Homo sapiens: one gene and its partners. The protein of the gene in region 3 purifies or fractionates together with the protein of the main gene of each other region. This does not show direct contact. Each region holds a gene or a part of one and is shown on either strand. Other genes may lie near its edges. The genes, in order: PTPRD, ST7, PCDHB16, PTPRF, SLC39A11, POM121 and TAOK2.

Region 1 (3,500 bases), on a different chromosome or scaffold from region 3:
AAAAGACTGAGAGGGCTTTAAGTTACAATAGGATGGGTTCCCTTAAGAAAATACCTAGCTTGATTTTGAAATTTTTGTTAGAGGTAATTTTGTTTCCCTGGGGATGTTTTTCTCTCCTTTCTTTTTTTATGGAGTCTGGGGTGGGGAAATATGAAGAAAGTCATTTCTTCTCTAAATTCTTCGAAAGTCCCTTGATCCTTTTTCCACAATAGTGACCTCCCTTGCTGCATGAGGCATGTGTACCTTCTTCCATGGAAAATTTCAAAATGATGCTAGCTATTGTTTCTAATACCATGTTAGTCTGTGAGATATTGCTAACTTTTCCAGCTGAGATAGGAAGGATGAACTAGAGCGAATAAAGATGTTCAAGTAGCAGTTGAAAGCCTTGATATGGCCTTTTTACTCTCTCTGTGTTTCCCTTGTTTTTCTCCTTTCCTCATTTCATTGTGTTCTGCATCAAACCCCCTACATCCCTCAGAGCTGCGAGAAGGTTGGTGTGTTTTTTACTTTTTACCCACCTTACAAAACTATTAATTAAACCAATAACAAAGAATACAAATGAAATGAATGTAGCTGCATTGTGTTCTTCTTTTGGTTAATGGTATGTTTTAGCAGAGAATGCCCTGGCCATGGCTTCTGGTGCTTGCTGGTGGTATCTAACTGTGGTGCATGGTGGGAGAGAATGTACCTGGGTGCATGGTAACTGGTAACACTTAACTCTGTAAGGTCCAGTGAACTTGGTCAGTGTTCCTGCTTTCCTTCCTGCTCCACTGTCCCCATCTCCCACCCTGCCTTTAATTTCTGTCTTATAAGGATGCCTGCTGCCCATAGAATGACTTTTTCTAGTTTCTCCCCTAATCCCAAGCATGAAGACTAAACTCTCCTCCATTTTTCTTGATATGTTCTTTGATACCTCAGAGTCTACACTGGCTCCTGCTTGCTTTGTGTAACCTCTGTGAATTGGCTGCAGGAGGCATGCTTAGCTTTCTCTTCTTCTCCTATGACTGTCATTCACCCATGAGGCCATTGCAGTGAGCCATCTCAAATAAGCGGAGGTTTATCTCGACCTTAAGAGCAGCCAAAAAGTTTTCAGACAGAATTACTTATCTTCTTCTTGGGGTTATGAGGTTACTTATCAGTTTATTTATAATTTTTAAAAAATCTTTATTAAATGTATTTAAGGTGTGCTCCCTAAAGATTACCCTCTAGATCTCAAATTCTTATGGTATGACATTTTGCCAGTAAAAGCCCCAGATGAAACCAATTTATCTTTCACTTTCTCCTTGTATCACATCCAAAACACATTTACTTAAACACACATAAACCTGCAGATTATCTGAAGCAGGAACACTGAACTGAAATTGCTTGGTAATTTTTCTGTGTTATGTTGCTTTAATATGATCTCTTCTCTTAATGTCATGTCCTGCTGTATGTTTTAGATCCAGTGTCCCTCAATTTGAATGTGGGCATAAAAAGCCTTTTAAAAGATTTTGTTGTCATTTATGTTGTTTTACCTTTGATATGAATTGAATGGAATCCTGTATGTGAAACACCCAGCTCCCTTTCTGAATTTGCAATCCTTACCTTTAACAACTTGAGCTTAATCTTCTGTCTTTCAACCCTGTCATCCCCTAAGTCCCTGTGTTTCAATCGTTATACTTTACCTCCCCCTTTCACGTTTATTTCTATTGCCCCCTTATTTCTTCTGCGGTCATTGCTGTCTTGGATTCCAGCCATTCTTTCAATATCCTTAGCACGGGCCTTGAGATTCCATCTTGTGCATGCCTTGCATGACCCAATCCAGTATCTCTACTGGTGTTAGCCTGTTTCTTCTTCTGTGACTGTAAATCAATATGTATATACATTTCTGTGTTTGTTCCAGTGTTAGTGTGAGGTCTTGAGGCTGCATCCACTATGAATCTGAAAACATAAAGTGCACTTTCAGTGTACTCTAGGTGATGTTTTCCAGGGCTGGGATGTGACAGTGTGGTCCCACACCTACATTCACATCAACTGGAAGTGCACAGCACTGAAGTTGGTTTTGATACTCAACTTAAACATGCTGGTGACCTTCCAGCCCCCTTTTCTGCATATACATGCCTGCATAGAATCATTGTTATATGCCTGCATGTATATGTTTTTGTGTTTATCTTATGCATGATGTTTGTGTATTGTTAGTTTGTAGATAGTTTTTTGTGGGGCCCTTGTAGGTCTGAATCAACTTTTGTATTAGTGTGTCTAAGATATCAATGACTAAACTAAATAAATAATTCTGTGTATACACACACCATACTTGTATGGTCTGTATTATCCACAGTTTTTCTTTATGTTTTGTTTTTGGACAATCCACAATGTTTCAATTGTTGAATCGTGTCTGTACGGTGCATGTCATGTGTTTAATAATCCACTTTTTCTTGCCTTGTATATGTTATCATTTCCCTTGTGTTTTGTTCCAGTTCGCCGTGTCCCACCAAGATTCTCTATCCCACCCACTAATCATGAAATCATGCCAGGCGGAAGCGTTAATATCACCTGTGTGGCCGTGGGGTCACCAATGCCTTATGTAAAGTGGATGTTGGGGGCAGAAGATCTGACACCTGAAGATGATATGCCAATAGGAAGAAATGTGCTAGAACTGAATGATGTAAGACAGTCAGCAAATTACACCTGTGTTGCTATGTCAACACTGGGTGTCATTGAAGCAATAGCACAGATCACTGTCAAAGGTATGCTCAATGGATTATGCTTTGAGGATCTGGGTACACTCAAGCCAAGTGACTAATGCCTCTAGAAAGCCCATCCTTGAAAATCTAAAATAATTCATTATTCAGCATTTTAAATGTGTGTATAACCTAATCATATCTGTGGTATTATATAACATGCATAAGCCTAGATAGGCGGATTTTTTCTTGGAAGTATCTGGCAGCCTATGTAGAGATAATCATCAGAATATTAAAAGACAGTCCATGGAGGCCCAGGCACTAACCAGACAGAACTAGGAATTTTACACATGGTCGACCATTATGGTGGGACTGATGTGTACAGTCTACATACTAGACCAGAACCTTGATAAGAACCCCAAGAAAAGTCAATATGAGCATTAATAAATGCTTAAAATTTCTAAATACAAAGGAAAAAGAAGAAAAAAAAAGTTGAAATCAACATAGTCTAGTAATAGATGATTTAACTTTTTGGTGAGCCCTACTATTAAAAATCAAAAGGCAAGTAAGAGTATATTCTGTTGTAGTTTTATCTTTCACCTTGCATAGATGAGTGCTCAAGGAATATTCTTTCCTTTAAAAAACAGACTAAATATAACCAAAGTACTATATTACATGAATATTTTTGAACTAAAGAGAAAGAGTACAAGCATGTAAGGGTACCGTTTTTTTTTCCCCTAGTGTTTATAGAATTCTAGAAAGTGTTTGCAAATTGAGTCAGACATAGGGCAACTTAAGTTTTCTGCAGATGGCTAGAACTATTGCAAAATGAACACAAAT
Region 2 (3,500 bases), on a different chromosome or scaffold from region 3:
AACTGCAATAGCCAGCTAGGAAAAGGAGGCTGAACTTCACAGCTAATGTAAGGGCTGGGGCTACTAGTTAATCTTAGCCTTAGGAAGGGTCTGTAAGGTCTTTAGCCAGTCTCTCTAATTTCAGGCAGGAACCATCAATGGGGCTTTAAACAATGTGGTGAGGTAGGGAGAAAAATGCCCAGAAAAACAGCTATAAAACCAATTTCTACAGATGGCAGCATCCATGACTTGGAAAGAACCATAATGATGCTGAAACTATACAAGTGATTCACTGGAGAAAATAACTGGGACAGGCATCAGAAGAAATGCTTAAGGCTTCAGATGCCAACATATAAATATGAGGCAAGGGTAATGAAGTGAAAATTGAGATTGTAATACTGAGTGGTAGATACAGTATCAGAGGAATTAGCTATAAGATTGTAGTTGTTGGGCTGGGAACCCAAGAATGGTTGGGGCTAGCTTGCTTGCTTTGCTTATTTATATTTCAAATGGTATTCTTAGGAGGAGAGGCAGAGTAGCACTACTGGCCAAGAAACATACATCTATGTGGAAACGCATGAGTTTGGGATAGAAACATGCTAAGAGCTTGTGAGTGAAGGAAAAAGGAGAGAGCAATAGAAGTGCTAATGGTTGGGGAGTACAGAACAGACTGCTCAGCTCGATGGAAGATATAGATGATGCATCCTTGTCACAACACAATACACATACAGAAGCAAGAAAGTGTGGTGATGGGGGTGTCAACCATCCAGATATCCACTAGAAGTCTCATTTGGTTAGAAGTAGGGCACCCAACAGGTTCTTGACTTACTTTGGTAACAATTTTATCTCCCAGATGGTAGAGGAAGCAATTAGGGGAACTTCAACTCTGGACCTAATTCTGACCAAGAAGAAAAAAATAGTTGGTAAAATGAAAATTGATAGGAACATTCAGAGAGAGTCACTATGTCATTTCGGAGTTCAGGGTAATCAAAGAGGGGAAGGTGGACTTCAAAAAATTCAAAGAAAAGAGGCATGATTCAATGGCATGAGATTCAGAAGGAAAAATGGTTTAAGAGGGTTGAGCAGCTTCCAAATGTTCAACTGTAACTGCAATCACAAATGATCCTCTCAGGAAGAAAAGAGGGGTGGCACTTAAGTAACCAACACGGCTTCACAGAGATTTCTCCCAGGTCAGATTTTTAAAGGACATATTTTAAAAGATGGAAAGAGGGCATGTAATGATGGTCTATAAGAGAGTGGAATGAGCTTATAAGAATAATGTCAGGAGAGCTACAATTCCAAATTAGCTGAAGCTTGCAAAAATAACAATAATAATAATAATAATAAAACAAAATAAAATACTAAAGACAACCATTTATTCCCTATTTTAAAATTATATTTAAGGCCCTATCACCGTCCCCATGTCACAAAGGCAAATAAGTAAAAAAAAAAGACAAACAACATAATAACATCAAAACAAGGAAGGTTTATTGTTAAAAGCAGTAGATAATAAAGAAAAAGCAAAACTCTCTCCCTCCTATTTTGTTCCTGGCTTCTCTATCAAGGAGAATGACTGTCAGACTGAAAAAGGGAGAAGAAATTAAACTCTAAAATGGGTAAAAAGATGTAAGATAGCAAATAATTGATCCATTCTAAATGAATTACTGGACTGGATGGGCAAATCCCAGGAAACCGAAAGACCTTGTAGGCAGGCCATGGAATTGCTCTCTGTGGATAGTTGAGGAATCACAAAGAATGGAGAGGTGCTAGAAGATGAGATGATAAATGTAGCATAAATTTTCAAAAAGGGGAAGAAGGCAGACTTCCCAAACTACAGAACACAGTGATTTGGAAAGATATTCTAATGGATTATTAAAGGAATGGTCTCCAAGCACTTTAAAAAGAAAGTAGTGACGACTAGAAGCCAGCTTATATTCACTAAGAATAAATAAATCAGATTGTGCTAGCTTAATTTACTGTAATAGATTTACTATAAATTTAAGATCCGCAGCTACGATTGGCATTCTTAAGATCCAAATGGAGAAATATGAGCTGAGTCACAGTGTAACTGGGTGGCTTAGTAATTGAGTGAACAATACAAAAGATGGTGATTCATGAAGACATGAACCTGGAGGGTAGTTTCTATGTCATGTCACAGGGCTCTATTCCTGGCCTTCATATTTTTCTCAGAAATATGGATGACACACAGAAGGCAGGCATATCGAATTTGTAGATGACAAGAAACTGGAAAATAAATATGTTGCATGACAGAATCAGAAACCGTAGATCAACTGGTTACAATGGCAGGATTTTCAACTCTCACGACAATCTTTTTTTTTTTTCCCTAAGATCTCTGAAGAAGATTCTGTAACCTTCTTCAGAAAAATCATAAAATAGTTTAACAATGACCACTTGGCAAGGATAGTGTTGAGGTGATTCAAGCACCAGATGGGTGGTTCAGCTAAGTGACCTTTAAGGTCTCTGCCAACCCTGAGTTTTTATGACTCCAACTTTAAGAATCTTTCTCATTTTCTGAGATCTCCAGAAGAGATTTCCCAGCCTTCCTTGGTAACCCACAGAATGTTTAACAACACTCAAGACAGCATTTCCTCTTATCTTTGTCTTAATCTTGAAGTATTTTCTAAAATTTTTTTTTTAAACCTTATGTTGTTATCATGTTTTCCCCACTAGCAGAAGTTCTACTAGAAAATGTTCTAGTGCAGATGAGCATTCTACATCTGGAAAATTTTCCCTGTCAGAATGTTTTAGATATGTAAAGAATTGTATTTATTTTATATCCTCACAATATCCTAGGGATAGCCCTTCAAGAAATTAATTTAGGATCACAGCAAAGCCATTGAATTCATAAAATGACTAAAACCACCTCCACATGGTGGCTGTCCTTCATTTAAAAAAAAAACTTTTTTAAATAGAGTAATAACTCCCCAAATAATCCTCCAGTTCAAATGCAGTTTAATTTAAGTATCCTATCAATGGCAACTGAATATATTCAGCAAAGGATGAGATTTCCTTTTTAACAGCAAGATTTTCCCCCACTTACTCATTTATCTCCAAGGCTTCATGAGCTGCAGAAATCCTAGCTTGGGGGTTTCTCTCTCTCCAGGCTTTCTGCATTACTATTTAAGAAAAAGAGAAAACACCAAGTCAATCCATACATATAATTAGGTAGACTCAGTAGAGGACAAGAGCTAAATTAGGAGTGTCAGCTTAAATTACAAGAACATATTTCATTGCTAAGAGGGTTGGCCAAAATCTCCAAAGTCATATTAGTGTATTAATGTGCTATTCCACAGTATTTCAACTGCTGATAGCAAACCTTTTTTGTGCTCACAAAACTACAGGCTAAGGAAATCAAGAAAAGGCACTCTAACAGAGATTTTGCGTGTCTTTTGCACATTAATGTCATTTGTTCTTGGAGAATATATTTTATGCATTTTGAGATGACATTGCTACCAACCTTTTCATTCACTTAGATACAACATAATTGGTCATTTTCCGAA
Region 3 (3,989 bases):
AAGACGGAAAAATTTTAAATGACATCAACTTTGAAGATAAAGTATATTTTGTTAATTGGGATTCTATATGCAACACCTCTTCGGGGTAAATATGAGGAAAAGGGAAACTGGAATTAACAATATAATTTGAACTAACAATCAGAGAAAAATACCTTATTGGTGGTGGTGAGCATGAACAATTTAATCAACAAGACAATCATAAGAAGTTAAGGAATTTATCAAATGGGTTCCTATCAATAATTAAATCCAAAGCTATTGTGAAGGGTGGAATTTTAATCTATTTCTTTCCTAGTGCCCTAAGGAGAGAAGTTGGGGATAATCGGCTTCAGGAACTTGAACTCACTTGTTTCTGAGCCTCCTGTCAGACACACCTCGTATTGGTAGCTCTGGGACAGGGTCCCGGTGCCGCTTACGTCCACCAGACGCCCTGGAAAGGGGCCCTCAGGCATCGAGCAGCGGCCCACCGAGGCCGCCCTGCTCCTCCTGCACAGCCGCACCGCCACGAACAGGAGCACCGAAAAGAGGAAGAGCGACGACACCGAGGCCAACGCCACCACCAGGTAGACAGTGAGCGAGTTGGCCTGGGTCTGGCCGGGGGCCGCCTCTGGGAGCGGCAGGAAGGGCTGGGAGAAGCCGTCCACCAGGAGCACGTGCAGCGTGGCGGTGGCCGAGCGCGGAGGCTCGCCATTGTCCTTGACCAGCACCACCAGCCTCTGCTTGGCTGCGTCGCGCTCGCTCAGCAGCCTGGCGGTGCGCACCTCGCCATTGTGCGCCCACACACCGAACAGCCCGGGCTCCGTGGCCTTGAGCAGCTGGTACGACAGCCAGGCATTCTGGCCCGAGTCGCCGTCCACCGCCACCACCTTGGTCACCAGGTAGCCCGGCTCGGCCGCCCGGGGCACCAGCTCAGTGCAGGGCGCGGAGCCGTTCTGCAGCGGGTACAGCACGAAGGGCGAGTTGTCGTTGGCGTCCAGCACCAGCACGCGCACCAGCGCCTCTCTGCTCAGCGCGGGGGAGCCGCGGTCTGTGGCGCCCACGCGGAACTCGAAAGCCTGCAGGGCCTCGTAGTCCAGCGACCTGAGGGCGAACAGGTGGCCGTTGTCCGCGTTGATGGAGACCAGGGAGGCGAGGGGCAGGTGCGGGTCTTGGGGCGGCAGCAGCGAGTAGGTGACCTGGGCGTTGGTGCCCGAGTCTCTGTCTGTGGCGCTGACGCTGCCGATGTGCAGGGCGGGGCTGTTGTTCTCGCGGACGAACAGGGTGTAGGAGGTTTGGGTGAAAGTGGGGGCGTTATCATTGACATCTGATATCTGCACTGTTATGTTGTGCTCCGTTTTCAGCCTTGGAGTCCCCATATCTGTGACGGTGAGGGTGATATTATATTCAGCTCTTGCTTCTCTGTCGAGTGCTCTCTCCGTTACCAAGGTGTAAAAGTTCTTGACTGAAGGTTTTAGAAGAAAGGGAAGGTCTTCCTGGATGGAGGAAATCGTCTTCCCATTGTTTCCGGAGTCAGGATCTGAAACGCTGAAAACAGCAACTACTATCTCAGGCGAGTTCTCTGGGATGGGGCTGGTGAGTGCAGACATGGTCACCTGTGGGGGATTGTCATTCACGTCCACCACCTGCAGGAGAAGAGTGCACTTTCCTGAAAGACCTCCCCCATCTGTGGCTTTGATGCGCACTTCATAAGACGTAACCATTTCGAAATCTACTTGCTTTCTCAGTCGAACTTCCCCTGTCATAGGATTTACCTCCAAAGTTTTACTAATATCCTCCGAAGGCTGAAAGAGTGTGTATGATATTTTTCCATTGGCTCCGCCGTCTAAATCCCTGGCGGAGACGGTGGCAACCAGGGAGCCAAGAGGACTGTTCTCTGGAATCTGCACTTTGTAGATGGGCTGCTCAAACTCAGGAGCGTTATCATTGATGTCCACCACTTCAATACGGACCTGAGCAGTTCCAGATCGCGGTGGAGAGCCACCATCCAGCGCTGTCAGGGTTAATCTTAGTTGAGGCTCCTCCTCCCGATCCAGCTCTTTATCCAACACTAGCTCAGGGTATTTCCTGCCATCTCTGAATTCATGGATTAGAACCCGGAAATGAGAGCTTGGGCTGATTTTATAGTTTTGAACATTATTGCTTCCTACGTCCAAGTCCAAAGCATGATTCAGAGGGAACTCAGTTCCTAGAGGACTGTTTTCCGGTATTTTTAGAATCATTTCCTTTTCAGTGAACATGGGAGAATGGTCATTTATATCTATCACCCTCAGTTCAGCCTGAAATATTTCTAAAGGGTTTTCCATTAACACTTGGAAATGTAGTATGCAAGGCTCAGTGGGACCGCATAGCTCCTCTCGATCTAGCTTCTCATTTATGAGCAAATCCCCAGTTTGAGCCTTGAGCTGCAAATGCTGTTTGTTCCCCTGGGAAATGATCCTGGCCTTGCGGGTGGACATCTCTGTCAACCCCAACCCCAGGTCTTTTCCTAGATTTGCCACAAAAGAGCCTCTCTCCGTTTCTTCCACTACGGAATAGGACCCCAACTCGGCGCCCGCCCCAGACAAGCTCAGCAAAACAAAGAAAACAAGGACTTGCCTTTGTCTCCGATTGTGCATCCATCCAATCTCCATTGCTTTTTCTTGAAAAGTTGGTTCACAGAAGCTTCATGTATCCCCAGGATCCTAGTAGAACTGTTTTGCAGTCCAGAATGTCAGAACCAAGCAGCCCAACGGTGTCTTAAAGAGGTTTCACACTCACGTTCGCTCTGGCTCAGCTATTCTTCTGCTTCCAGGCTTTGGGAAACGGTTTGCTGGATCCTGGAGCTGCGTAGGCAGTTGTATTTTCCGTCATCTTAACCTGCAGCGCCACCACGCGTTCTCACTGAGTCTTTTACTGTGGTTGAATATTGGAGGCAAAATACTTCTAAATGTACTGAATAGACTATGTAATACAAAACACTGAGTTCTATTTTCATGTGACTTTCGTGTATACAGATGGAGCTCTGTGATGTTGTACAGGGAGGAGTACAAAGAGAAGACTGTCATTTATGTTATTGACTGTTTAATGCTGTTGAGATTAATGATTAAATAAAATTCAATGAACATTTAACCAGACATAGAATACACACTTAGAAGCAAAATTTTTCTGAAGTAACATGAGAACAGTTTCACAAGTACATCTTTTTCATGGTACCTATATAGACACTATGAGTAGACACTGCAAAATTGCAATCAGTGGTAGTTCTAAAGAGTATTTAACAATTGCTTTATTAAAGAATAAATTACTTCCTTTTCTTTCTGACACCTAACCCTGAGAAGTGTGAGTTTTTACAACTTTCAAGTTATTGGAAAATTCATTCCCAAACAAGCAAATCTCAAGGTTGGGTCTGCTACACTTTTGGATTCCCCCCACCCTTTTTTCATTTCAATGGCTTTTAATATATTCAGAGGTGTGCATCCGCCATCACAATTTTAGAACATTTTCATCTCAAGAGAAACCTTACCTCTTTTAATTATCACCGTACCCGTTCTCCCATCCCACTTATAAACATATGTGTGTGTGTGTGTGTGTGTGTGTGTGTGTGTGTGTGTGTGTAGGTTAACTGAAAAAGACTGAAGAAAGAGAATAAGAAATTCAAGAAATGAAACTATAGGTTAACTCTACTTCCTACTTAGACTCATTTCTTTAATAATGGATATGGCACGTAGAGAAAGTACAGGACTATAAATCAGGTTAATTCGCTCATCATAAAGTTCATTTGTAGTATCTGTCCCAGCATACTTAGAGCTTTGATAAGAACATGGGTATATTTGTGCAGAGTAGTATAAACAAACTATAAACTAAAACTTATATTTTCACATGAGAGTTTAGTTCATGGAGTAGGAGTAGGAATAACATAAATTTCACTTCCTTAGTTAGAAAAACAATGCTATCAGTTAATGCCTGACCATATAGCATATTGGCTAGACTTAGATTATATTTTAAATTTTTAC
Region 4 (3,142 bases), on a different chromosome or scaffold from region 3:
ACCAGTGGAGCAGCTGCACAGCTCAGTGGGTGATGCAGCTGTGTGTCCAGGGGCCAGATGGACACACTGTTTTTTGTGTCCATTATCCACATTGCAATAATTACAGGAGATCTCACTAACCAATTTCCATACATTCAGTCTCTACTGCCACAGGGCCATCCCTCTCCTCCAAGGTAGTGGGAGAGGGGCAGTCCCAATGCCCCGATAGTGCAACCCACAGAATCTTAAAGGGAAAGAGAGGCAAAGGGTATGCTCCCCGGCCTAGGGTGCTCTTCACATGCACTGGTGGCTCTGGCCTGGCTGGCTCTTGGTGGCCTGGTTTTCAGGGTTTATAACCACTCCTTTCTGAAAGTGGGTAGCCATGCCAGGAGCCTACACTGGCACAAATACTTAGGGTACCCTCCCCGTCTCCTCAGGAGCAGGGAATCTCCAGAACCCATCCTAGCTACTGATTTGGCCCAGACTCTTTGGTTCCAGAAACAGCTGAGACAGAGTCCTGGTTTGTAAGAAATCTGATTATTCAAATTTATTACCATCAAGAATTATGCAATGATGCTGTAGTTTTTCTTAACAAATAGAAAACAGACTGTGTACAACAGTGAACTCTACAGCACTAGCATCCACAAGGTAAAAATGAATGTTTCATCATCCAACATTACCAACCCTGGAATGTTGATCTTGACTTAGCCTAGCTAGGTTTGGGGACGTCGGCACCACGTCCCTCAGCTAAAACAGCTATGCACCCTTCCCCGCCCCCACTTACCTATCTAGATAGCGCTGCCCAGAGGAAGAGGCGCTCTCCCTGCCCCTCAGCAAGCTGGGATAATAAGGACTGATTAGAGTACCATTGATAGAAGTCCAGTAGTCTTGCCACATTGGTTTATGAGGGCATCTTGGAGTGGAAAAGAGCGATTATCGGGGGCTTTGAAAACAGCTGCAAACCAGGGAGGAAAATCATCTGGCCCCTGCTCTGAGGACAGACATGTGCTACCAGGCCCACTGGCCTGGACCTGAAAGGCCAGCCACGCCCCCGCTTGGCCCTGAGGTGCATGGGGTGTGGCACACACCCTAACCTGTGCTATTCACCTTGGCCACACAGCCAGACCCCACAGCCTACAAACACCACACCATACTGCAATGCTGGGGACCAAAGCCAGGCTCTGTGGGCCCAGGTCAGCCAGCAGCTCCCTCGGGAACCCCAGGCACACGGAGTTGCTTCCCCTCTTGAGGGTTTGAAGCAGAAGCCAAGGGCTGACTCTTTTTTTTTTTCTTGGGTTTTTTGTTTTTTTTGTTTTTTATTTTTGTGGTTTTTTGTTTTTGTTTTAACCTTTGCAAACACGATGGTGATGAGGAATGCCTTGCCAGGCTCTCCCAGACACATCTGTGGTTCTGGGCTGTGAATGTTAAACACACACTGGGATAGACGACCAGGGATGAGTGTTCCCTATCTTCTCCCCGCCCACCACTGTCAATGTGGCCTAAAAAAAGGCTTTAAAGGGAAAACAAAACTTAAAAAAACATTGAGTTTCCCTGCATTTAGCTGAAACAGGATCTCGTCTGAAGGGCTGGAGGAGCAGCCGGATCAGCACTGCCTCCCGGCCCACGGCCGAGCCTCCGCTCAGGCTGGCAGCCCCAGCTCTGCACGAGGAAGGCAATGTTCTGTCCTTCAGCAGAAGTCATACAAAATAAGGATCCAAAGTGAACTCAAGAAAAAAAAAAACAAAACAAAATAAACCCCAACCCCTACAGTGGCCCATTCTGCAGATACGGATTCGCGAAAGGAAAAATCAGAGGGAAGAGGCTAAAATCCCTCAGTCTACCCCACTTAATGTATTAAAAAGGAGGCTTTGCCCCAACCCCACCCCATGAGAAGAAGCATGAGAAATGCGGGAGCGCAACAGAGAGCTTGAAGCGGGCTCCAGGTGGGTCTGGTGGACAGAAGGGCCACAGTGCCTGCCTGCTGGGCCATCCACTTGCCCAGGGATGTTCTAGGCTCTCTGATTGGTGTGGCAACGTTCCTGAAACGCTGTGATCCCCGTGGGCTGTGCTCTGCCAGTGACAGCATCTGCGTAGGAGGGCTGGACGATGGTCGGTATGGCTCAGAGGAGCTGGGTCCCCTCCGGAGCCCCACGGCGGGGGTGGCGGAGGAGAGGGGAGCGGTAGTTACGTTGCATAGTGGTCAAAGCTGCCGAGGTACTCCAGGGCCGCACGGTAGCACAGCTGATACTGGTCCTGCCAGGATAGGGGGCTGGTCAGTGTGGGTCGCGCCAGTGGACACCCCCACTACACAGCTGACACTCACACTGCAGCCATGGAGTTAGCCTCTGCTGGCCAAGAGCAGGTGCTGGACCCTGGCAGCTACATCAGGCAGTGTGCGGGGGAGCCTGAAAGAGCCTCTGAAGGCTCATCTCTCTCCTGTCATTCTCTCAGGCCCCCACATCTACCTGCCTTCCATCTGCCATCCCAATCATGTTTCTCTGCTCCTGACTGGGCACCCCATAAGGATTGCTCTGTGCAACCTTGCCCAGAGCCAGGCACACCACTGGGGCTCAGCAGAGAGCTGCCGAATGAAAGAACACATCTTACTCATCAATCCCCTGAGCCCCCAGGCAGCACAGGCAATGTTGCAGCATTTTTGTTTTGTTTTGTTTTGTTTTCAGCAACAGGGTCTTGCTCTGCCACCCAGGCTGGAGTGCCGTGGTATAATCATAGCTCACTGCAGCCTCGAACTTCTGACCTCAAGTGATTCTCCCACATCAACCTCCCAAGTAGGTAGGACCATAAGCACACACCACCATGCCTATCGCAGGCCACGTGAAAGGTTGGCAGCATGAATGAATGCACATGCCTGTGGGCATCAAACTGTTGCTAAAGCCTAGGGTTCCCAGCAGCGCTGCTGCCAAGGCCCTGGCCCTGCAGCCTGGTCTGCGTTACCTCTGTCTGCACCATGGCAGGACGCTGTGTACGCAGGGTCTTCACGGTCTGAAACATGTCGACCACGCCCTCGTAGCGCATGCGCTCCAGGACGATGCTCAGAGTGATGAACACCCCGGTGCGGCCCACGCCAGCACTGCTCAGAAACACAGTTGGGTCAGGAGTCCTGCTTGCCTCATGCAGTGGGTCTGCCAGGCCTTCAGGCCCA
Region 5 (3,500 bases), on a different chromosome or scaffold from region 3:
GTTTTGTTTCTTGATCTGGGCTCTAGTTTCATGAGCACTTGTGGAAAGTTATCAAGCTGCATACTTATATTAGGTTGGTGCAAACCTAATAAAATGCACCAGCCTAATAAAATGTGCATTTTTCCATAAGCATCTTCTATTTCAATACAGATTTTTTTTTTTTTGCTATCTATCCATAGATGAATGGATAAACAAAATGTGGTATGTACATACAATGGAATAGTCTTCAGCCTTAAAAACAAAAGAAATTCTGGCACATGTTATAACGTGGATGAGCTCTATGGACATTCTTTGAAGTGAAAGAAGCCATGTGGTCTACAGAACTTTTCACCTTACAAAATTAAAACTCAGCTGGGCATGATGGTGCACACCTGTAATCCCAGCAGTCTGGGAGGCCGAGGCAGGCAGATCACTTGAGGTCAGGAGCTCAAAACCTGCCTGAGCAACATAGTGAAACCCCATCTCCACTACAAATACAAAAATTAGCTGGGCATGGTGGTGCACACCCGTAGTCTCAGCTACTTGGGAGGCTGAGGTGGGACGATCACTTGAACCCAGGAGGTGGAGGTTGCAGTGAGCTGAGATCATGCCACTGAACCCCAGCCTGGGTGACAGGGCAAGACTCTAGCTCAAAAAAAATAAAAAATAAATAAATAAAACAGCCTGGCCGGATGGGGTTACCAGCGAAACCCCGTCTCTACTAAAACTACAAAAAAAATTAGCTGAGCGTGGTGGTGTATGCATGTAATCCCAGCTACTCGGGAGGCTGAGGCAGAAGAACCTTTTGAACCTGGGAAGCAGAGGTTGCAGTGAACCAAGATCACGCCACTGCACTCCAGCCTGGGTGACAGAGCAAGACTCTGTCTAAAGAAAAAAAAAACAAACAAAAACAAAAAACCCTGAAACTCTGTACTCATTCAAGAATAACTTATTTCTGCCCTCCTCTGTGGCCCCTGGCAATCACCATTCTACAATGTGTCTCTGTGAATTTGACTTATCTTGGCATCTTATATACCTAGGTTCCAGATAAACCATGTTTCTGGATTGTGTGTTTTCTGATTTCCAGTCTCCAACCCATCAGCTCCCGGGGGCAGTGCAGCGCAGCAAGGGAGGTCGGGATTTTATTGTTGAAATCAAGGCCTGCTGTACTGGTCTCTAACACAAGAGTGCCTGACTTGTGAACTTCCTAAAGGTGTTTTCATTTCCAGATCTCCCTCACAACATGTTGAACTAGATCTTAAGTCACTTATTCATTTGCCGTTTCTACAATGTCTCAGGCTACCGAGGTGATCGATGCAGGGATTGTGCATTCATCAAGATACCCATGGATGGCTCCAGGGCTGCGGACTGAGGGTGATCTGGGTTGGAGAAAAGAATGCAATTTCAGGTATATGAGGTGAGTGTGGGTTGTGCAGAGGTGTGGGGAGGGCATATGGGTATGGGTATGTGTGCAAGTGTGGGTATGTGGGACTATAGGTAGAGCGTGTAGAAGGGGTGTAAGGATGGGGTTGTGGGAGGAGGGAGAGATAGGCTGTGGGGCCATGACAGTGAGTGAGGGCACTGGGAGTAGGATACAAGGAAGATGTAGGAGAAAGAAGTAAGAGTTTGCAGGGGGCCAGGGACATGGGTCTGTCTATATTCATCCCAAGGGGAAAGGAAACAACCTGGAGATGGGTTGAAAAAAAAGGGAACAGATGCCCCTTCTTCTCCCAAGGTCTTTCCAACCATCCCACCCAACTCAAGTCCACAGGGGAGGACAGTTACACCTGAAATCTAATGTTCTTCGGTCACGCATAGTACCACTTGCTCCAGGCCTGAAAGAAATTACATGGCAGGCCAGGCACGGTGGCTCACACCTGCAATCCCAGCACTGTGGGAGGCCGAGGTGGGTGGATCATCTGAGGTCAGGAGTTTGAGACCAGTGGTGAAATCCCACCTCTACTAAAAATACAAAAATTAGCCAGGCGTGGTGGCACATGCCTGTAATCCCAGCTACTCTGGAGGCTGAGGCAGGAGAATCACTTGAACCCGGGAGGTGGAGGTTGCAGAGAGCTGAGATCCTGCCACTGCACGCCAGGCTGGGCAACAGAGCAAGATTCTGTCTCAAAAAAAAAAAGAAAAAAGAAAAAAGAAAAGAAATTACATGGCAGGTAGAAATTAGGCAGCGGGCTAACGAAGCCTCAATAACTGGGCTTCTCACTTCCTATTCCCTTCAAGTCAGGCTGTCAAGGGTCAAGAGGGGAGATGATGGTGCATGAAGGTGTCTACAGCAAGCAGACATCTGTTCTCCCGGCCTGGCAGGGAGAAGGTGAGAAAATAAGAAGACAGCGAACAAACCCCAGTACACAATGCCTGGGGGTGTGGCCAGGGGCACTGAAAAGTCTACAAACCTGCTCCATGGAGTGGGACAGTGCCCCTTTACCAACGGGCTCCCCACCAACATCCAGAACCAAAGCAAGGCAACTCACCTGTCCACTAGAGAATACGAACACGAGAGCTGCCCCAGCTGCTGTCATCCCCCAGGTGAAGAAGGTCCCCAGCAAGGCCTGGAACACAGAGCTGTGGCCTTGGAGCATGCTGGATACAGCTGTGCAAGAGGAGCGAGAGGGTCAGCCACCGGTGGTCCGTTTCAGTGACAGGCGCATATTCTGACGGGTCCTAACACCCTGTGTGGGAGCTGGCCTCCCTCCAGGTTGACCGTATGCACCCTTCCACCACGCCATCTGTGTCCCTCAGCCACCCAGCACACAGGTCAGGCTTCTCTATCCAGGTCCCCCAGGAACTGGAAATCGTCTTAATCTGAAAGAAGGCACAGGGAGATGCCAGGGGAATCCACAAAAAAGGCTGCAACATTGAAAAGTGGTTTCAAAGAGAAGCACAAAGAATGTGGTTTATTCCAGAAGAAGGGGGCATAGGAGGGTCTGATGCAGCCTCCCCCACATAATCTGCCTCTTCTACCGTCTCTTGCCCACCATCCGCACTCAGCCTCCACCAAAGACAGGTGACTAGCTCAGGTGATGTCAACACGCTTCCAATCTTAATCCCCATCACATCTGCAACAGCGCACCTGCCCAGCCAAAGGGTAAACTCCACCAACCAACTTTTGATACCCACCAACCCCCGACTCTCCAATCCCGTTCTCCATCATGCCTGCACGAGCACCCAACTCCAGCTCAACTGAATTATTTATGGCACCTTCCACAAGCCCCAGACAATCCTGCCTCCAAGTCCCTGTTCATGCAGTTCCCTCCTGGAATACCTTCCTTGCACATTTCCAGCCATCAGAACCCGGAGCACCCTCTGCAGCCCACATAATGCCAACCTCACGACCAAGGCTTTTCTGGCCTTCCCCAGCCCTGTCCTAGCATGCAGCTTTGGTCCTCTCTCAGTGTGGCTTTGCCTCCATCTTTTACAGCCTTAGTTGCTTGAGGACGGGGACGGTGCTTTTTCACATTTGGCACCCCTGTAAAATAGGGCTTTGTAACCCCTGAAAAATATGT
Region 6 (3,500 bases), on a different chromosome or scaffold from region 3:
TGGGGGCGGGGGACGGGGCAGATGTGGCTTGGGGTTTGGTAGCCGTCTCTGCCTGAAGGGTTGGAGGTGCCTTGGTGTCAGTGGCTGGTACCATGGATGGAGCAGGGATCAGCCCCAGCAAAGTGGTCGGGGGTTTGGAGTCAAAGGAGGGGCTGGGGAGCAGCCCTGGCGGCCCTGACTGTGATAAACCCAGCGGGGGTAGGAGGCTGGGTGTCTTTGGAGGTGAGAGGGCCTCAGTGGTTGCTGCTCCAGCAGATTCTGGAAGAAGAATAGAAAATGTGAAATTGGAATAAACACTTCAAAGATGATGGTATTCAGTATTTCAGTGTCCTCCCCACGCCTACCACAGAGCCTGGGATCCAAGAGTCAGTCAATAAACTCAGCTAAGTCTACACTACAGGCCTGTACAGTAAATCAAGGAAGTGTTATTTCTACCTCACAGATCATCAGACAGAAGGGGATAAAATGGGGCCTAAATGGGGGCCTAATGTGTAGAGACTAAGACAGTCCAATTGTCTGAACTCTGAAGTTCACGTATGAATCTAGATATACTTTATTTGCCTACTAAGCTCACCTGCCAGGCGCTAAGAGCACACAACTATGAATGGGGAAGTCTCTGCCCTTGAGCAGGGAGGGTGCGTACGAACCCCAGGTTACCGTCTGATAAAGAGGTGTGCGCGCGCAGTGCCGTGAAGGCCTGGGCCGGGAACACCAGCAGCCCTCGAAGTGCTGGAGGGAAAGGAAGCAGTGCTGTTCTGGACCAGTGGTTCTGACAGGCAAGGATATCCTGACCACGCCACCACATTCACACTTCAGAGGTGCCGCACAGGGAAGATCATTCTCATCTGACAGATGAGGAAGGCGAGGCTCAGGGCAGCTACGAGCCAGGCTTCAGATCCTGAGCGTCGCAGCACCCCTTCTCTAACACTTCCTGATGCGGGCTCTGGCGCTGTTAAACGTGGGCCCGCTCCGGTGTGCTGAGCCAGGGTGCGTTCGGCCTGCAGAGCAATCTCCAGCGACTGACAGGCACGACGCCCTTATTCCAACTCAAGCCGGGGATGCTGCTCAGAAGGCTGGATCCACGGCCCCACTCCAGCTCACCTGGGCAGGGTGGCAGGCTCGGGGGAGTCTGCATCTTCTTCAAGCTCTCTAACAGTGGGTTGGTGCTTGGGGCCAGGAGGGAGGTGGGTGGGGAGGCAGGTGCAGCAGCAGGCAGGGTAAAGGTAAATGAAGGCTGAGTGATAGGTGGGGTCTCAGTGACAGAGTTCGAGGCAGCATCTAAGAAAGAAAGAAAGGTGAAGCAGTCCTGGCTTGTCTGGGACTTCTTTCCACATGCCTGTCGGAGAGCAGGCTCTCAGCACAGCTCATGGAGGAATGCCTGCCCTCAATTGCAGTGGTCCCTGCTGTCCAGTTCCCGTGAAGACCAACACGGATATCTCAGGTGAGAAAGACCACAAGAAAACATGGAACCCTACTTGGGATTTTCCCAGAGAAACCCATTTTTTCAAACACCAAAATAAAACCAAAGAAAACAGACACCTGAAACCTCTCCAGTGTGCAACAATCTGTGCTCCTTACCGCTCTTGTCCTCCAAGGCCTGGTTGAACCACTGTAATGAAGCCTTCTTCTCTAAGTCTAGGTCCTCGGCAGTGATCGAATAGCCAAGCTGGGGAGGTGGAGGCTACCAAAGTGAAAAAGAAGAAGTCAGGCCAATCAGAAAAAACGGGAAGGCTAGGCATGGTGGCTCACACCGGTAATCTCAGCACTTTGGGAGGCCAAGCCAGCTGGATCACTTGAGGTCAGGAGTTTGAGGCCGGCCTGGCCAACATGGTGAAACCCCATCTCTACTAAAAACACAAAAAATCAACCAGGCGTGGTAGCAAGCACCTGTAATCCCAGCTACTTGGGAGGCTGAGGCAGGAGAATTGCTTGAACTCAGGAGGCAGAGGTTACGGTTAGCCAAAATCGAGCCACTGCACTCCAGCCTGGGTGACAGAGGGATGTTGTCTCAAAAAACAAAAACAAAAATAAATTAGAAAAAAAATCAGAAGAAACTTGTCCTTAGCGTTCCTAATACTTAGGAGAGCTAAGCCGGGGAGGGCAGGAGTAGATGGACAAGACCATACCAAGGTCAGCTGTTCCCCTCGCCGAGAAGGCAGCAGCTGAACTTTCCGCTTACGCTGCCCAGAGCTGCCAGGTGTAGACTGAGAATTCGAGTTTTGTTTCTTCCTTGGGGTTGTATCTGCAGCTAAAGAAAGAAATCAAGACTCGTTTGCTTCCTTCCCTCTTCCAGAAATGGATGGTTGTGTCTACCCACTTCGCATTTCACATTGAGTTTTCAATGGGTATCTCTGAAAAGATTCAATCTTCTATGGTTTGGTTGCTTGGATGGTGTTTGCAAGATTAAGGCGCGCACACAAACCGCTTACTGTGCAGTAATTACTGGGATCACCCACAGGTGACTCAAACTGAGCTTACCTCTATCCAATCGTTAGTCCCTGTCTGTAGCCTTTCTCCCTCATCAGACTATAAACTTCTGAAGGAGAGGAAATCTCTCTCTTTGTATCTAACATGCCTTAGACATAGCAATGCTCAAGACCTTTTTTCAATAGGTATTAATCTCTACATCCTCCACAAACACCTCCACCACCAACAGCAGCCCCTCCTCCTGGCTCAGCAACCTACCCTTTTCTCCCTGGGACTCCCTGTCTGCTGCCAATGGAGTTGAAGAACTGGAATGATGACACAGCTCCTCTTCTCTGTCAGGAAAAAAGGAACAATTTAGTCTAGAAAGGCTTCTTGGCTGAAGTATTAAATAATTTCTCACACCCTCCTAACTACCAAGTGGCCAATGTCTAAAACAACCATCATTTAAGATCTCAGTATGCCAGGATAAAAAAAGTCAACAGGAAATTCCAACAGAATGAAGGGAGGCTGTTCACAGAGGCCATGAAGACAGCTTTTGTCTTAAAACAAGCACAAAACAATAATCTTCAAACCTTACTTACAACCTATCAAGTCCCTGGGAGTTCTAGACACAGATGTGATCCCTGAGGGAGTGGCATTCCAGCCAACTGCAAGCACCTAGGGGGTCAGCTCGAGTCAAGAACCTGAAGGCGACTGCCCGCTGACTTGACTCTCTCTGCTCTCCACTCTGCATGGCCTCTGTGCTTGCACCCGATCCCTCATGCTGGAGTGGGAGGCGACAGCCAGAGGCCACTGGAGTCAGTATCCAAGACTGTAGGGATGACAGCACTTCGGGTGGGTACTGCATTGTACCTCTCAGGGACTTAAGTTTCTTTGATTCTCCAAGTCACAGCAGCACAAAGCCTAAGAGCCAGGTTCGTTTCCCACCTTTCCTCACCCCCGCCTGTCCACGCAGCAAATGAAAACTGCAGGAGAATGCCAAGTACCTTATTTTCTTTGCTGGCCTCTCCGGTGTCTGGGAGCGGGAGGAGGCTGGGCTAGAGAAGGGTGATGAACTGGGGCCATTTCTCTTC
Region 7 (3,500 bases), on a different chromosome or scaffold from region 3:
ACAGACTGGAAGGGAGAAGAGACTGGAGAGATCACTGCAGGAGGCTGTTGATAAGAGAAACTAACAGCAACTCTTAGGCAACTGTTTTGTGCCTGGCATTGTGTTGGAAGCCTTATAAAGGTTACCTACCTCATTAAAGAATTGTTTCAATAGTGCTGGCTGACAGAGATGAGAACCTTGGCATGGCTTCAAGGCCTTAGGAACTCACTTGGACCTAACTCTCTGGCCTTATCCTTCAATATTCTCTGCATTACATGCTAGGTTCCAAATAACTGAAGCTAGTCCCAGTTCCCCAGGCCTGCACTTACCTCTAGGCCTCTCACATGCTGTTCTCTCTGCCTGGAAAGCTCTTCCCTACATTCTGCAAACAGCTATTATTTATCTTGCAGGTTGGCTTCAATATTCTCCTACAAGGAGGCCTTCTTCAGCCCCTAAACTAGGTCAAGTCCCCTGTTTTACATTTGAACCGCTCCTGTAACTTCTCCACACAGCGTTCATCACATTGAAAGAAAACATGCCTGCCTGGTTTCCCTAAATCAAATGTAAGTTCCATGAGGGCAGGATTTTCATTCACTGCTATCCCTCCAGAATCACAGTCCATGGCACAGCACATGGTGGGCACTAAGAAAAGATTCAGAACCAGGGTAGTGGACAGGAAGAGATGAATGCTACAAAATCTCTAGGCCTAAGAGCTGGCAGAATTTGCCAGCTGCCTGTATTGGGCTCCAGGGTAGAGTCACAACGGACAGGAACTTGGAGGCCTGGGATCCCATCCCTAGGAGAAGGGGGTAGTCCGGAGTCTGGGAACTAACAGGAAAGAATGGAAAAGATGATGAGGGAACAGGGAGGATGTTCTTACCCAGCTCGATGCAGGTTATCCCCAAGGACCAGACGTCCACTTTGCCATCGTACTGCCCCTCATCCATGGCCAGGATCACCTCGGGTGCCATCCTAGGAGAATGGTCAGGAGAGAGAGGCAAATCACCCGCCGAGACCCTGTCACTCCTACTCCCAACATCCCTGGGAGGTCTCTCCACTCACCACCACTCACTCACTCACCAGTATGGGGTGCCCACGAAGGAGTTGGCAGGTGCCATGATGGACGCAGAACCAAAGTCCCCTAGCTTCACTAACCCTGGCTCTGACAGCAGGATGTTTCCAGCCTTCACATCCCTGCCAGAGGCAAAGTACAGGGATGAGACATGTGTCTCAAGAAAGCTAGGCAGGGGCAGCCCAGCTAAGTGACAGGTGGTGCAGATAGCACTCCCCTCCCAGGCACTGCCGGTGCTGCTTGTACCTATGGATCATGTTGTGGGAGTGCAGATATGCCAGGCCCTGAAGCGCCCCGTGGGTCACAGCTGCGATCTCTACCTCCTGAAGGGGTTTCTTGTGCACTGGAGAGTGAGGAAGAACATCAACCCGAGGGAGCGCAAGGGTGGGACTGGAATAAACTCCCCTTAACCCTTCCCTATGGCTCCCCTGCTCTTCTCCCTTCTCCACTTATTGGCCTATCAGTCACTTACCTTCTAGAAGGTCAGAAGCTGAGCCCAGGCAATACTCCATTACCAGCTAAGGAAGAGACAAGGGTCAGAGATCAGAGTCTCCTGGGCAGGGACTCAAAACAGAGCTTCCTTGACTGTCCTGTACTCAAGCTATGTCCCCGGGGTGATGACAGGGAGGAAGCGCAACTGGAGACAATGAGGGGGTGGTGGGAGAGTTTCTAGAGTCTGGGCCCAAGACATTCACCACTGCCCATCTGAATCCCTTCAAACTCCCATTCAATCTCCACCTTCTCCAGCCCACAGTGACCTGTCCCACCTGCTAACAGCCTGTGTCACTGAGCCAGGCTTTTGCTCAGTGGGTATGTCTGAGGACTAAAGCGGTCAAAAGAGACTTCCTCCTTCCCAAGATCCCACAACAGCACCACGAACAGGGACCACCTAAGAGACTGGACTACGATAAGGACGGGCATGAATAGGAGTAAAGATCAGGCCAGAATCTGGCACCAGCTCACCCAAGCCGTGTGCTCCCTCAGGTAACAGCCCCGGTACTGAATGGTGTTGGGATGCCGGAGCTTCTGTAAGAACCGCACCTCCTTGATGATGTCTTGCCATTTCTAGGGGGTCAGGGTAGGCAGAGGTTACCCAGCTTGCATCTTGAGACAGGAGTCCCCTGTCCCCAACCTGGCTGTATTGCACCTGGCCCACCTCATTGGACTGCTTCCCACTGTAGGACATCTTCTTGATGGCCACCACCTCACTATTCCGGACATCCCGGGCCTAGAGGACCAGACCAGAAGGTGTTGAAGGCCCCATTGAGAGCCGGGCATGGGAAGACTTGCTGGCCCAGCAAGAGAAGGCAGGAAAGACCAGTGTGATGGAGTAGTGTGCAAGGGCTGTTGGGAAGTCCACAGGGATAGGAAGAGTCCCCATCCCTATTACACCCTCCCAAGACCCAACTCACAAAGTATACGGCTCCAAAGCTGCCATGGCCAATTTCCCGGAGGTCAGAGAAGAGCTTTTCTGGGTCATCCTTGAAGAAGAGCTCAGCCACATCTGGGTCCTTCAGGCTCCCGGCCCGGCCCCCAGCTGGCATGGTGGCCCCTGGGGGCCCTGAGAGTGGGGCCTGGCCTGAGGAATGGAAATGGGACCCTTAGAGATCAAGGATTGAGCCTTCAGGGAGAGGAAGGGACCCATCAAGTTTCTGCCATCTCCTCCCCTCATTCCCTGATGAGGAGGAGGCACTGCTGAGGAAGGGGAGGGGGAGATTAGGAACAACATCAAAGCTCCAAAAAATGAAGTTGCCCTGGCAACCAGATCACGCGGGCTGGGTCCCTGGAGTCCCTAAAACTGCTAGGAAGATTCTGGGAAGCTAAGTATCCTCACCACCCCCTTCAGTGCTCAACAAGTTCTCATTTCCCTATAGCCCCTGTATCTCCCCTCAAGGATAAAACATTCTGCTTCCCAGCCAGCACTCCAGAGCCCCAAGTGTCCTGTCCCATAAGTCCTATACCCCAACTGTTTCCAGGCACCTTTCTGTTCCCCTTGGCGCTGAGGCCCCCTCCTCCCTCAACCTCTCACACCCTGGAAGAGAACAGGAAATGGCCAGGCCGGAGGCGGTGGAAATCCGTCCATTGTTAGAAGTGGGTACTGGCCCAGAGGAGCCCGCAAAGTCACTCTCAAAAAAGTCAGGGGGAGATCTAGAATGGGAAGAATAGGGATATAAATGGCATCTGGCTATGAGGGCCTCTCTGTGCTCTGGGCCACCTTACTTGTCCTGTCCAACTGCATAAGCATCACACACAGGTACAGGACATTTGCAGGGTACAAATAACATTTACTGAGTACCTTACGTGCATTATCTCTATTCAGTCCTCACTACAACCTTATGAAGCAAGTACTATGATTTCCCCTATCTTACAGATAAAGAAACAGGCTCAGCAAGGTTAAGTGCCTTGTCCAAAGCTGGTCCTCCATCACTATGATTTCAGAGCAGCCCTT

The links.
Region 1: the proteins of PCDHB16 (region 3) and PTPRD purify together in Homo sapiens (affinity purification with mass spectrometry; 2 studies listed by BioGRID and IntAct, with this or other methods). This does not show direct contact.
Region 2: the proteins of PCDHB16 (region 3) and ST7 purify together in Homo sapiens (affinity purification with mass spectrometry; 2 studies listed by BioGRID and IntAct, with this or other methods). This does not show direct contact.
Region 4: the proteins of PCDHB16 (region 3) and PTPRF purify together in Homo sapiens (affinity purification with mass spectrometry; 2 studies listed by BioGRID and IntAct, with this or other methods). This does not show direct contact.
Region 5: the proteins of PCDHB16 (region 3) and SLC39A11 purify together in Homo sapiens (affinity purification with mass spectrometry; one large-scale study listed by BioGRID and IntAct). This does not show direct contact.
Region 6: the proteins of PCDHB16 (region 3) and POM121 purify together in Homo sapiens (affinity purification with mass spectrometry; 2 studies listed by BioGRID and IntAct, with this or other methods). This does not show direct contact.
Region 7: the proteins of PCDHB16 (region 3) and TAOK2 purify together in Homo sapiens (affinity purification with mass spectrometry; 2 studies listed by BioGRID and IntAct, with this or other methods). This does not show direct contact.

What each region holds. Positions count from the first base shown.
Region 1 is NC_000009.12:8,520,503-8,524,002, reverse strand, and holds part of PTPRD (receptor-type tyrosine-protein phosphatase delta isoform 1 precursor), read left to right. Parts: intron 1-478; coding exon 479-490; intron 491-2,456; coding exon 2,457-2,726; intron 2,727-3,500.
Region 2 is NC_000007.14:117,131,501-117,135,000, reverse strand, and holds part of ST7 (suppressor of tumorigenicity 7 protein), read right to left. Parts: intron 3,117-3,500; coding exon 3,041-3,116; intron 878-3,040; coding exon 809-877; intron 1-808. UniProt on the Homo sapiens protein: May act as a tumor suppressor.
Region 3 is NC_000005.10:141,181,198-141,185,186, reverse strand, and holds the start of PCDHB16 (protocadherin beta-16 precursor), read right to left. Parts: upstream 2,801-3,989; 5' UTR 2,628-2,800; coding exon 297-2,627; 3' UTR 1-296. UniProt on the Homo sapiens protein: Potential calcium-dependent cell-adhesion protein. May be involved in the establishment and maintenance of specific neuronal connections in the brain.
Region 4 is NC_000001.11:43,621,025-43,624,166, reverse strand, and holds the end of PTPRF (receptor-type tyrosine-protein phosphatase F isoform 1 precursor), read right to left. Parts: intron 3,071-3,142; coding exon 2,935-3,070; intron 2,233-2,934; coding exon 2,164-2,232; 3' UTR 501-2,163; downstream 1-500. UniProt on the Homo sapiens protein: Possible cell adhesion receptor. It possesses an intrinsic protein tyrosine phosphatase activity (PTPase) and dephosphorylates EPHA2 regulating its activity.
Region 5 is NC_000017.11:73,086,189-73,089,688, forward strand, and holds part of SLC39A11 (zinc transporter ZIP11), read right to left. Parts: intron 2,588-3,500; 5' UTR 2,577-2,587; coding exon 2,469-2,576; intron 1-2,468. UniProt on the Homo sapiens protein: Zinc importer that regulates cytosolic zinc concentrations either via zinc influx from the extracellular compartment or efflux from intracellular organelles such as Golgi apparatus. May transport copper ions as well.
Region 6 is NC_000007.14:72,938,595-72,942,094, reverse strand, and holds part of POM121 (nuclear envelope pore membrane protein POM 121), read right to left. Parts: coding exon 3,414-3,500; intron 2,760-3,413; coding exon 2,686-2,759; intron 2,249-2,685; coding exon 2,127-2,248; intron 1,682-2,126; coding exon 1,579-1,681; intron 1,279-1,578; coding exon 1,102-1,278; coding exon of another isoform or gene 1,084-1,101; intron 259-1,083; coding exon 1-258. UniProt on the Homo sapiens protein: Essential component of the nuclear pore complex (NPC). The repeat-containing domain may be involved in anchoring components of the pore complex to the pore membrane. When overexpressed in cells induces the formation of cytoplasmic annulate lamellae (AL).
Region 7 is NC_000016.10:29,976,868-29,980,367, reverse strand, and holds part of TAOK2 (serine/threonine-protein kinase TAO2), read right to left. Parts: intron 2,631-3,500; 5' UTR 2,596-2,630; coding exon 2,464-2,595; intron 2,280-2,463; coding exon 2,208-2,279; intron 2,117-2,207; coding exon 2,015-2,116; intron 1,570-2,014; coding exon 1,524-1,569; intron 1,395-1,523; coding exon 1,298-1,394; intron 1,174-1,297; coding exon 1,060-1,173; intron 952-1,059; coding exon 860-951; intron 1-859. UniProt on the Homo sapiens protein: Serine/threonine-protein kinase involved in different processes such as membrane blebbing and apoptotic bodies formation DNA damage response and MAPK14/p38 MAPK stress-activated MAPK cascade.